2 separate regions of the Homo sapiens genome follow, and region 1 is linked to region 2. The links come from fine-mapping of genetic effects on gene expression. A gene starts in region 2. The other region holds a variant in brackets. All regions are shown on one strand. Distances are between the middles of the regions.

The links. PIP is the estimated chance that this variant, and not a neighbour inherited with it, causes the effect.
Region 1: its variant is the best candidate, but not a certain one, in a credible set for the expression of CYP17A1 in lung (TOPMed, PIP 0.59).

The regions. Positions count from the first base shown.
Region 1 is chr10:103,204,102-103,209,473 of GRCh38, forward strand. No RefSeq gene overlaps it. Among named protein-coding and RNA genes, the nearest start is that of NT5C2, 14 kb to the left of the region's middle. RefSeq lists enhancers at 378-1,037, 1,038-1,696. The variant A/G (reference allele first, on the strand shown) is at 2,640.
Region 2 is chr10:102,835,327-102,840,656 of GRCh38, forward strand. It overlaps CYP17A1 (cytochrome P450 family 17 subfamily A member 1), which reads right to left and starts at 2,087. Exons shown (of 8, transcript NM_000102.4): 1 at 1,739-2,087; 2 at 1-66. The coding sequence starts at 2,035. RefSeq lists a promoter at 2,047-2,326.

The DNA.
Region 1 (5,372 bases), 370 kb after region 2:
CCAGCCTGGGCAACATAGGTAGACCACATATCCACAAAAAATTTTTTTAAAAAGTTAGCTGGCAGCCGGGCATGGTGGCTCATGCCTGTAATCCTAGCACTTTGGGAGGCTAAGGCGGGCTGATCACGAGGTCAGGAGATCAAGACCATCCTGGCCAACATTGTGAAACCCCATCTCTACTAAAAACACAAAAACTAGCTGGGTATGGTGGCACACGCCTGTAGTCCCAGCTACTCGGGAGGCTGAAGCAAGAGAATCACTTGAACCCGGGAGGTGGAGGTTGAAGTGAGCTGAGATCGCACCACTGCACTCCAGCCTGGCGACAGAGTGAAACTCCATCTCAAAAAAAACCCAAAAAAACAAAAAACCAAAAAAAACAGTTAGCTGGCTGTGATGGCTTGTAGCTGTAGTCCCAGCCACTCATGAGGCTAAAGTGGGAGGATCGCTTGAGCCCAGGAGGTCAAGGCTGCAGTGAGCCATGATTAAGCCACTGCACTCCAGTCTGGGTGACAGAGTGAGACCTGTCTCAATTTAAAAAAAAAAGAAAGGAAAGAAAAAAAGAAAGAAAGAAAAAAGTTCCATGCTTGCTGAAAACTTGAAAGACCTACTTAAACATTTAGCACTCAAAAAACTTGGGCATTTATCAGTATAAATTCCTAGATCAGCACATTTACTGCATCTTTTAAAGATTGTAAGGCCTTGTAAGCAAGAAAATGGCTCTGGTGAGATGGGTTTATATAGGGATTTGTAACAGGGATGCACTGTATTTTTTTAATCAGTGGTTCTCAAATTTCATCAGGTATGGTTGCCTGGGGAGTTTTCTAAAAGGCAGATTCCATACCATATCTCAGTCTTACCAATCGTGACTCTCTGGCCTTGGGTCCTAGGAATTCGAAATTTAAACAAATTCCTAAGTAATTCTGATGCAAGTAGTCCCTGTGTTCTCTGAAAATGTTAACTATCTGCCTCACCGGTGCTTGTGACAGCAATCAATGTTGCCATGGTAATAGCCAATCCGAGCCACCCCCTGCTGTCTGCTGCCCAGGCAACATTGACTTCATGTGTCTCTTTCTTGTTTGCTAGCCCAAAGGGCCACTTTGAAAAATAATCTTCTGAGTACTACAGAAACTATACAATTGACCTAAAGAAACTCACTATTGCAGGATCAGGGATTATAAATCCCTATGTCACCTCACCTTCAGAGTATTAGTCTCTTCAGCACCTTTTGTGGCTCCAATTCAGATGTCAGATGCTAGGCATCAATGTTGGTATTTCATTGGCATAAATAGGGTGCAGTCCCTGAAACTCAGACAGTTTTCCAAGCCCACCATGATCTAGGTGTCAGGCCTCTGAGCCCAAGCTAAGCCATCATATCCCCTGTGACTTGCACGTATACATCCAGATGGCCTGAAGCAAGTGAAGAGTCACAAAAGAAGTGAAAATGGCTGGTTCCTACCTTAACTGATGACATTCAACCATTGTGATTTGTTCCTGCCCCACCTTAACTGAGCAATTAACCTTGTGAAATTCCTTCTCCTGGCTCAGAAGCTCCCCCACCGAGCACTTTGTGACCCCCGCCCCTGCCCACAAGAGAAAAACCCCCTTTGACTGTAATTTTCCACTACCCACCCAAATCCTATAAAACTGTCCCACCCCTATCTTCCTTGCTGACTCCTTTTTCGGACTCAGCCCTTCTGCACCCAGGTGAAATAAACAGCCTTGTTGCTCACACAAAGCCTGTTTGGTGGTCTCTTCACACGGACATGCATGACATTTGGTGCCATGACTCAGATTGGGGGACCTCCCTTGGGCGATCAATACCCTGTCCTGCTCTTTGCTCCATGAGAAAGATTCACCTACGACCTCGGGTCCTCAGACCAACCAGCCCAAGGAACATCTCACCAATTTTAAATCAGGTAAGTGGCCTATTTTTACTCTCTTCTCCAACCTCTCTCACTATCCTTCAACCTCTTTCTCCTTTCGATTTTGGCACCACCCTTCAATCTCTCCCTTCTCTTAATTTCAGTTCCTTTCCTTTTCTGGTAGAGACAGAGGAGATGCGTTTTATCTGTGAACCCAAAACTCCAGCTCTGGTCACGGACTCAGGAAGACAGTCTTCTCTTGGTGTTTAATCACTGTGGGGACGCTTACCCACGTTTCAGAGGTGTCTGATCACCAGGGGGATGTCTGGCCTTGATCCTTCACCTTGGTGGCCAGTACCACTTTCACTGGGTGGCAAGCACCACCTCCCCTGGGGGGCAAGTACCCTCCCACCCCTTCTCTCCATGTGTCTACTCTCTCTTTTCTCTGGGCTTGCCTCCTTCACTATGGGCAACCTTCCACCCTCCATTCCTCCCTCTTCTCCCTTAGCCTGTGTTCTCAAGAACTTAAAACCTCTTCAGCTCACACCTGACCTAAAACCTAAATGCCTTATTTTCTTCTGCAACACTGCTTGGCCCCAATACAAACTTGATAAATGCTCTAAATGGCCAGAAAACAGCACTTTCAATTTCTCCATCCTACAGGACCTAGATAATTTTTGTCGAAAAATTGGTAAATGGCCTGAGATGCCTTACATACAGGCATTTTTTCACACTTCGTTCCCTCCCTAGTCTCTGTTCCCAATGCAATTCGTCCCA[A/G]ATCCTCCTTCTTTCCCTACCGCCTGTCCCCTCAGTCCCAACCCCAAGCATTGCTGAGTCTTTCCAATCTTCCTTTTCTACCAAGCCATCTGACCTCTCCCCTCCTCCCCAGACTGCTCCCTATGTTGCTTTCTGCCAGGCTGAATCAGGCTCCAAATCTTCCTCAGCCTCTGCTCCTCCACCCTATAATCCTTTTATCACCTCCCCTCCTCACACCCAGTCCAGCTTACAGTTTTGTTCCATGACTGGCTCTCCCCTACCTGCCCAACGATTTCCTCTTAGAGAGGTGGCTGGAGCTGAAGGCATAGTCAGGGTACTTGTGCCTTTTTCTCTATCAGACCTCTCTCAGATCAGTCAGTGTTTAGGCTCTTTCTCATCAGACCCCACTAATTATATATAGGAATTCCAGTATCTAACTCTGTCCTGCAATTTAACCTGGAGTGATTTAAATGTCATCCTAACATCTACCCTTTCCCCAGATGAACAGGAAAGAGTTTTTTCTCTAGCCCAATCTCACACTGATAACCACCGGCTTCACAAGCCAGACCTCCAAGAAGGCATTAGAGCAGTTCCCCAAGATGATCCCCAATGGAACTATCAGGCAGATTCCCCAGGTATAATTAGGCGAGATTACATGATTTCCTGCCTAGTTGATGGGCTTACAAAGGCAGTTTACAAAGCTGTTAATTTTGACAAGCTTAAAGAAACTACCCAAGGTAAAGACAAAAACCTAGCCCAGTTCCTGGCTTGTTTGGCAGCAACCCTGAGATGCTTTACAGCCCTAGACCCTGAAGGGTCAGAAGGCCGTCTTATTCTAAATAGGCATTTTATCACCCAGTCAGCTCCTGACATTAGAAAAAAGCTTCAAAAATTAGAATCCAGCCCTCAAACCCCACAACAGGAATTAATCAACCTCACCTTCAAGGTGTACAATAATAGAGAGGAGGCAGCCAGACAGCAACGCATTTCTGAGTTACAATTACTTGCCTTTGCTGTGAGACAAAACCCAGCCACACCTCCAGCACACAAGAACTTCAAACTGCCTAAGCCGCAGCAGTCAAGCATTCCTACAGGACCTCCTCCAACAGGCTGTTGCTTCAAGTGCCAGAAATCTGGCCACTGGGCCAAGGAATGCCTGCAGCCCAGGATTCCTCCCAAGCCATGTCCCATCTGTGCAGGGACCCACTGGAAATCAGACTGCCCAGCTCACCCGGCAGCCACTCCTAGAGCCCCTAAAGGTCTGGCCCAAGGCTCTCTGACTGACTGCTTCCCAGATTTGCTTGGCTTGGCAGCTGAAGACTGACGCTGCCTGATCACCTTGGAAGCCCCCTGGACCATCATGGATGCTGAGCTTTGGGTAACTCTCACAGTGGAGGGTAAGTCCGTCCCCTGTTTAATCAACACAGGGGCTACCCACTCCACATTACCTTCTTTTCAAGGGCCTGTTTCCCTTGCCCTCATAACTGTTGTGGGTATTGACGGCCAAGCTTCAAAACCCCTTGAAACTCCCCCACTCTGGTGCCAACTTGGACAACATTATTTTATGCACTCTTTTTTAGTTATCCCCACCTGCCTAGTTCCCTTAATTTTTTTATTTTTTATTTTTTGAGATGGAGTCTTGCTCTGTCGCCCAGGCTGGAGTGCAGTGGCGCGATCTCAGCTCACTGCAAGCTCCGCCTCCTGAGTTCATGCCATTCTCCTGCCTCAGCCTCCAGAGTAGCTGGAACTACAGGTGCCCACCACCACGCCCAGCTAATTTTTTTTTTTTTTGTATTTTTAGTAGAGATGGGGTTTCACCGTGTTAGTGAGGATGGTCTCGATCTGCTGACCTCGTGATCCGCCCACCTCGGCCTCCCAAAGTGCTAGGATTACAGGCGTGAGCCACCGTGCCTGGCCCCAGTTCCCTTATTAGGCCAAGACATTTTAACCAAATTATCTGCTTCCCTGACTCTTCCTGGACTACAGCCAAATCTCATTGTCACCCTTCTTCCCAACCCAAAGCCTCCTTCATGTCTTCCCCTCGTATCCCCCTACCTTAACCCACAAGTATGGGACACCTCTACCCCCTCCCTGGCAACCGATCACACACCCACTACTATCCCACTAAAATCTAATCACCCTTACCCCACTGAACGCCAGTATCCTATCCCACAACAGGCTTTAAGGGGATTGAAGCCTGTTATCACTCACCTGCTACAGCATGGGCTTCTAAAACCTATAAACTCTTCTTACAATTCCCACATTTTACCTGTCCAAAAACGGGACAAGTCTTACAAGTTACTTCAGGATCTGCACCTTATCAACCAAATTGTTTTGCCTATCCACCCCGTGGTGCCAAACCCATATACTGTCTTATCCTCAATACCTCCCTCCACAACCCATTATTCTGTTCTGCATCTCAAACATGCTTTCTTTACTATTTCTTTGCACCCTTCATCCCAGCCTCTCTTCGCTTTCACATAGACTGACCCTGACACCCATCAGTCTCAGCAACTTACCCGGGCTGTACTGCTGCAAGGCTTCACCGACAGCCCCCATTACTTCAGTAAAGTCCTTTCTCATGATTTACTTTCTTTCCATCCATCTGCTTCTCACCTTATTAAATATTTTGACAACTTTCTACTTTATAGCCCCTCCTACAAAACTTCCCAACAGGACACCCTTCTGCTCCTCCAACATCTATTCTCAAAAGGATATTGTGTATCCCCCTCCAAAGCCCAAATTTCTTCCTCA
Region 2 (5,330 bases):
CCAGTGTGCGCCAGAGTCAGCGAAGGCGATACCCTTACGGTTGTTGGACGCGATGTCTAGAGTTGCCTTTAGAGAGCAGGCAAGGCTGTAGGAATCTCACACCATCCACCCCACTCTTGCCCTTACACCTCTGGTCCCTGCTTTCCTTCCTGGAGGAGAAGGCAGGTACCTGGCATGCTGACTCCCATGTGGGCACAGCCCCACTGCACTCCACCATGACTGCAAGGACTTGGTAGGACAGACCCTAAGGCCTCCTACTCCCAATTCCTTCAGAAATACAGTAGATCAAGGAGAAAGAAAGAACCCTTAATTAGAATGCAGCAGCATTGGGGTTCTTTTCGCTGACAGGGTGCCCTCTGGGCTTCTTTTTGCTCATCAGTTTCTGACCACAGGAAGGCAACTCTGGATGGGATAAACTCTCTAAACTATGCCTGTCCAGAGGGTAGGGAGCAGGTGAGCTTGTAGAGGCTGAGGACTGCACAGATCTCTGCTTTTCCCTGAGCCCTTAGCTGAGCTAAAGGCACAGCTCACCTCACTCAGGTTTACCCTTCCATTGCAAGCCTGCATACCCAGCCACAAGCCCACATTTGGAGAGTGCAGATGTTTTGTCTACCCAGTCTGGACTTGGGCCGAGCCGCCTCCTCCTAGAGGTGCCCCCCAAAGCAAAAGGGTCCAAAGCCTCCCTTTTCCATTTCCTGACCCTGAAGATCCACATGACTAGCCTTCTCCATCTTCTCTGCCCCCGGGAGGAAGCCAGCAGAGGTGGGAGCTAGGTAGTTGGTCAGCAGACCTGGCTGATTGGTCCAAGAAAAAATAAACCAACCCTTGGCTTGATCAAAGCTGAGAGGCTGGCAGGGCACAGTGGCTTACGCCTATAATCCTAGCACTTTGGGAGGCTAAGGTGGGAGGATCACGAGGTCAGGAGATCGAGACCATCCTGGCTAACATGGTGAAACACCATCTCTACTAAAAATACAAAAAATTAGCGGGCATGGTGGCATGCTCCTGTAGTCCCAGGTACTCAGGAGGCTGAGGCAGGAGAATCACTTGAACCCGGGAGGCAGAGGTTGCAGTGAGCTGAGATTGGCCACTGCACTCCAGGCTGGGCGACAGAGAGAGACTCTGTCTCAAAAAAAAAAAAAAAAAAAAAAAATGCTGAGAGGCTGGGGGCCCTGCTGAGTGGGAGGCTCATCAGCAACCCTGAAATGTCATTGTAGAAAACTGCCCCTGTGAGCCTGAGTAGCTGGAAATAGCACCAGGAAAGCAGCAATCCCAGCCTGCAATAGCTAGGCTAATTCTCCCCAGCAGCTTTCATGGAGGACAGTAGTCACTGCCCCCATTTTCCATGAAAAGTAACATGAATCCTGGCTGTATAAGGGGCACTTACTGTGCTGGGTGCTAGGCTAAGTGCTGTACATGCACCTTCTCAGTCCATTAGAGAAGTCTAGGCTCAGAGAGAGGAGTGGAGTGAGGATTCCTTGACCCCTCAGACCACTGTGGTCCTCCCATCCCACCTCCTGGGCAGCCTGGTAGAGGAGACATTCCTTTAATTCTTCCTGCCTAATTTAGAGGCTGGGTGGGGGTCTGAAGGTTCACTCCCTTCACATCATCCCACTAGTCTACTTTGGGAAGAATTACAGGTTGTTGGAGCTGGAAGCCCCATTCTAGGCATGGTCTGAAGACCTGAACAATCCCAGGGGGTGGTGAAGGGGGCAGGGAGGAGATGGGCACCACTTACCATTTGAGGCCGCCCAGAGAAGTCCTTGCCCTTCTTAATAAGCACCTCCTTGGCCAGCTGGTGGTGGCCGACAATCACTGTAGTCTTGGTGCCCATACGAACCGAATAGATGGGGCCATATTTTTTCTGCAGCTTGAAGAAGTTGTTATGCATATGGCCGTGTCTGGGGAGGAATGGCAGGCTGCCCACCAGGGGCAGGGACAGGAGGCTCTTGGGGTACTTGGCACCAGGGCACCTTCTCTTGGGCCAAAACAAATAAGCTAGGGTAAGCAGCAAGAGAGCCACGAGCTCCCACATGGTGGCTGGGTGCCGGCAGGCAAGATAGACAGCAGTGGAGTAGAAGAGCTGTGGCAACTCTAGGGCACAAGGAGGCCTTTTAAAGGGCTACCCTGATCTTCACCTTGACTTTGTGTTATCTCTTGCCTTGTGGAAAGATTCTCCTGGAGCCCAGCCAGGCCTGAGCTCATATCCAGAAGGGAGAGAGGCGGTGGGAGTGAAGGCCTCCTCAAGGGCTGGCTCAACTCCAGGGCAAACCTCCGGAGGAGGAGCTAGGTAAGGGAGGTCAGTTGATCACCCTCTGAGGAGCTCCCCATGCTTGAATGACTCCAGAGTGCGAATGGTATCTGGGCTCAGGAGTCAAGGCTTGGAACTTTCCATGTTGCAAAATCAAAATCACTGGACAGATGACAGATTCAGGAGGGTCACAAGTAGCAGGGACTGTTAAAGGTCTTTTATGCTTCTTTTTTTTTTTTTCAGAGTCTTGCTCCATCACCAGGCTGGTGTGCAGTGGTGTGACTGTCCATGCAGCCCTGGCCCTCCAGCCCATGTGGTTTTGGCAGCGATAAGGGCTGTGGGTTAATGGTCCCCAAAATAAAAATGTACATGTGTATGGGAACGAAAGGGGTGCTAAGCTGTGGGGAGCGGTGGAAGGGAAGGGAGAGATAGGTCAGTACTAGGAATGCCAGAGGTGGGAGGCCGTTTCATAACATTTCTTGTTGATCAAAATGCCATCAACACCTTCTTTGCTCATCAGCAGGACTAGCGTACTGGGGGAACCCACCCCCAATATTTCAACGTAGGTTCTTTCTATAAGTGTCAGCCGGCTGAGAAATAAAGAGAGACAGTATAAAGAGAGGAATTTTACAGCTGGGCCGCCGGGGGTGGCATCACATATCGGTAGGACTGTGATACCCACCTGAGCCTCAAACCAGCAAGTTTTTATTAAGGGTTTCAAAAAGGGGAGGGGGTGTAAGAACAGGGAGTAGGTACAAAGATCACATGCTTCAAAGGGCGAAAAGCAGAACTACTAATAAGTGTCTAACAAAGATCACATGCTTCTGAGGGAAAGGACAAAGGGCAAAAGCAGAACTACCGATAAGGGTCCAACAAAGATCACAAGGCAAAGGGCAAAAGCAGAACCACTGATAAGGGTCCAACAAAGATCACAAGGCAAAGGGCAAAAGCAGAACTACAGATGAGGGTCTATGTTCAGCGGTGCACATACTGTCTTGATAAACACCTTAAACAACAGCAAACAGGGTTCGACAGCAGAGAACCGGTCTGACCACAAATTTACCAGGGCGGAGTTTTTCCCCACCCTAGTAAGCCTGAGGGTACTGCAGGAGACCAGGGCGTATCTCAGTCCTTATCTCAACTGCACAAGATAGACATTCCCAGAGCGGCTGTTTATAGACCTCCCCCCAGGAATGCATTCCTTTCCCAGGGTATTAATAATAATACTCCTTGCTAGGAAAAGAATTTAGTGATATCTTCCCTACTTGCATGTCCATTTATAGCCTCTCTCAAGAAGGAAAATATGGCTCTTTCTGCCCGACCCTGCAGGCAGTCAGACCTTATGGTTGTTTTCCCTTGTTCCCTAAAAATTGCTCTTATTCTGTTCTTTTTCAAGGTGCACTAATTTCATATTGTTCAAACACATGTCTTACAATCAATTTGTACAGTTAACACAATTATCACAGTGGTCCTGAAGTGACAAACATCCTCAGCTTACAAAGATAACAGGATTAAGAGATTAAAGTAAAGACAGGCATAAGAAATTATAAAAGTATTATTTGGGAACTGATAAATGTCCATATTAAAATGAAATCTTCACAATTTATGTTCCTCTGCCATGGCTCCAGCCAGTCCCTCCATTCAGGGTCCCTGACTTCCCGCAACATCTCTCCCTTTCTTTTTATATAAATGTGCCGTGGCGATGAAGGCTTGCTCGTTCTCTCGGTTTTGATGCAGGATTCTTTGACTGGTCTGGCACACTAAAAACAAGCCGATTAAACAGAGAAACATGATTCCAAAATTTCCTACAGTGGAGCCCCCAGTAGACTTAATCCAAGTTGTGGAGTTTAGTCCAGAAAGACTTTCTGCCACCTGATCTAACGCCTCAGCTCCAGGCACAATGGATAAATGAGCTTGAGAGGCTTCAAAAATTTGTTTCTTTAATTTAGTTATGTCCAAGGATAAATTATCTTCCCTACCCAGAAGGTGTCCTTTGACCATTTCCCATGATCAGTCTCGTTGTAGGAATATGGTGTGCTATAGAAATCAGAAGTGTTGCAATCGAACTGCATTTGCATGTGATGTTCGAGACTCATTAGCTGGTCCCCAAGCCAAATAACAGACTGTCTTAAATCATTAGCTAATTTTTGATCAATGCCTTGTTGAGGATTCCACATTTGGGTGGAATTGCCTTACCAATCATTAACAAAATTAGCCATTTGAATAGATTGGTGTAATGCCACTCCGGCAGTGGTGGCCAGTGCAGTGACTGTAATTAGGCCCATGATCACAGTGATTAAAGTGAAAACAAATCTCTTGATCTTTTGAGAATTCGTTGTAACACTTCATTAATTAAATGTACTGAGGGGGAAGATTCCCAAGTTCTGGGTAAAGTTACTGGTATCCAGATTCCTTCTCAAGCTCGAACCAACATTACACTTTTCCTGAGTCAAAACGGGAGTTAACACAAGTGGATAAATGACAATTAATGCATTGGACGGTTTGATTGTTCATCCAAATTTTGATATTTCCCACTAACAGCATGTAAGGAGGCTTAACACAACTCTGTATAATAGTCAGGCTGGAGGTAAACAAAGCAGAATGTTTGAATCTACGTTGATACCGAGGGGGAGGAGTGGCGGTGGCAACGCCCAATGTTTGATGCCGTAAAGAAGCAATCCGAGGTGCCCGGGGATTCTGAAGAGGTAGGGGGACATACCTGGGTCCAGAAGAATTATCATAATGCCAATCAGAGTCCCATAAAGGAGGACTGGCATCAAAAAGAGGAAAATGGTCCAAAGGGGATTTATCATGGGTTTCAGAATCACGGATGTGAGGGGTGGTAGTGGGGACAACAGAAAGAAAAGTTTCCCCTTCCCATACTCGCAGTCTGGACATGGCAATAGCCAATTTCCAAAGTTCTGGGTGTTCTGGGCTCAGAATGGGGGATATCATAAGAGGCCTCGGGTGGCAGGGGGTAATGCTCTTATCTTCCCATTTTAAGGGACAGAATGAGCTGAACCTCCTATGCAAAGTAGGATGATGATCCTCGTCCTCCCAATAAGAAATAAAACAAGTA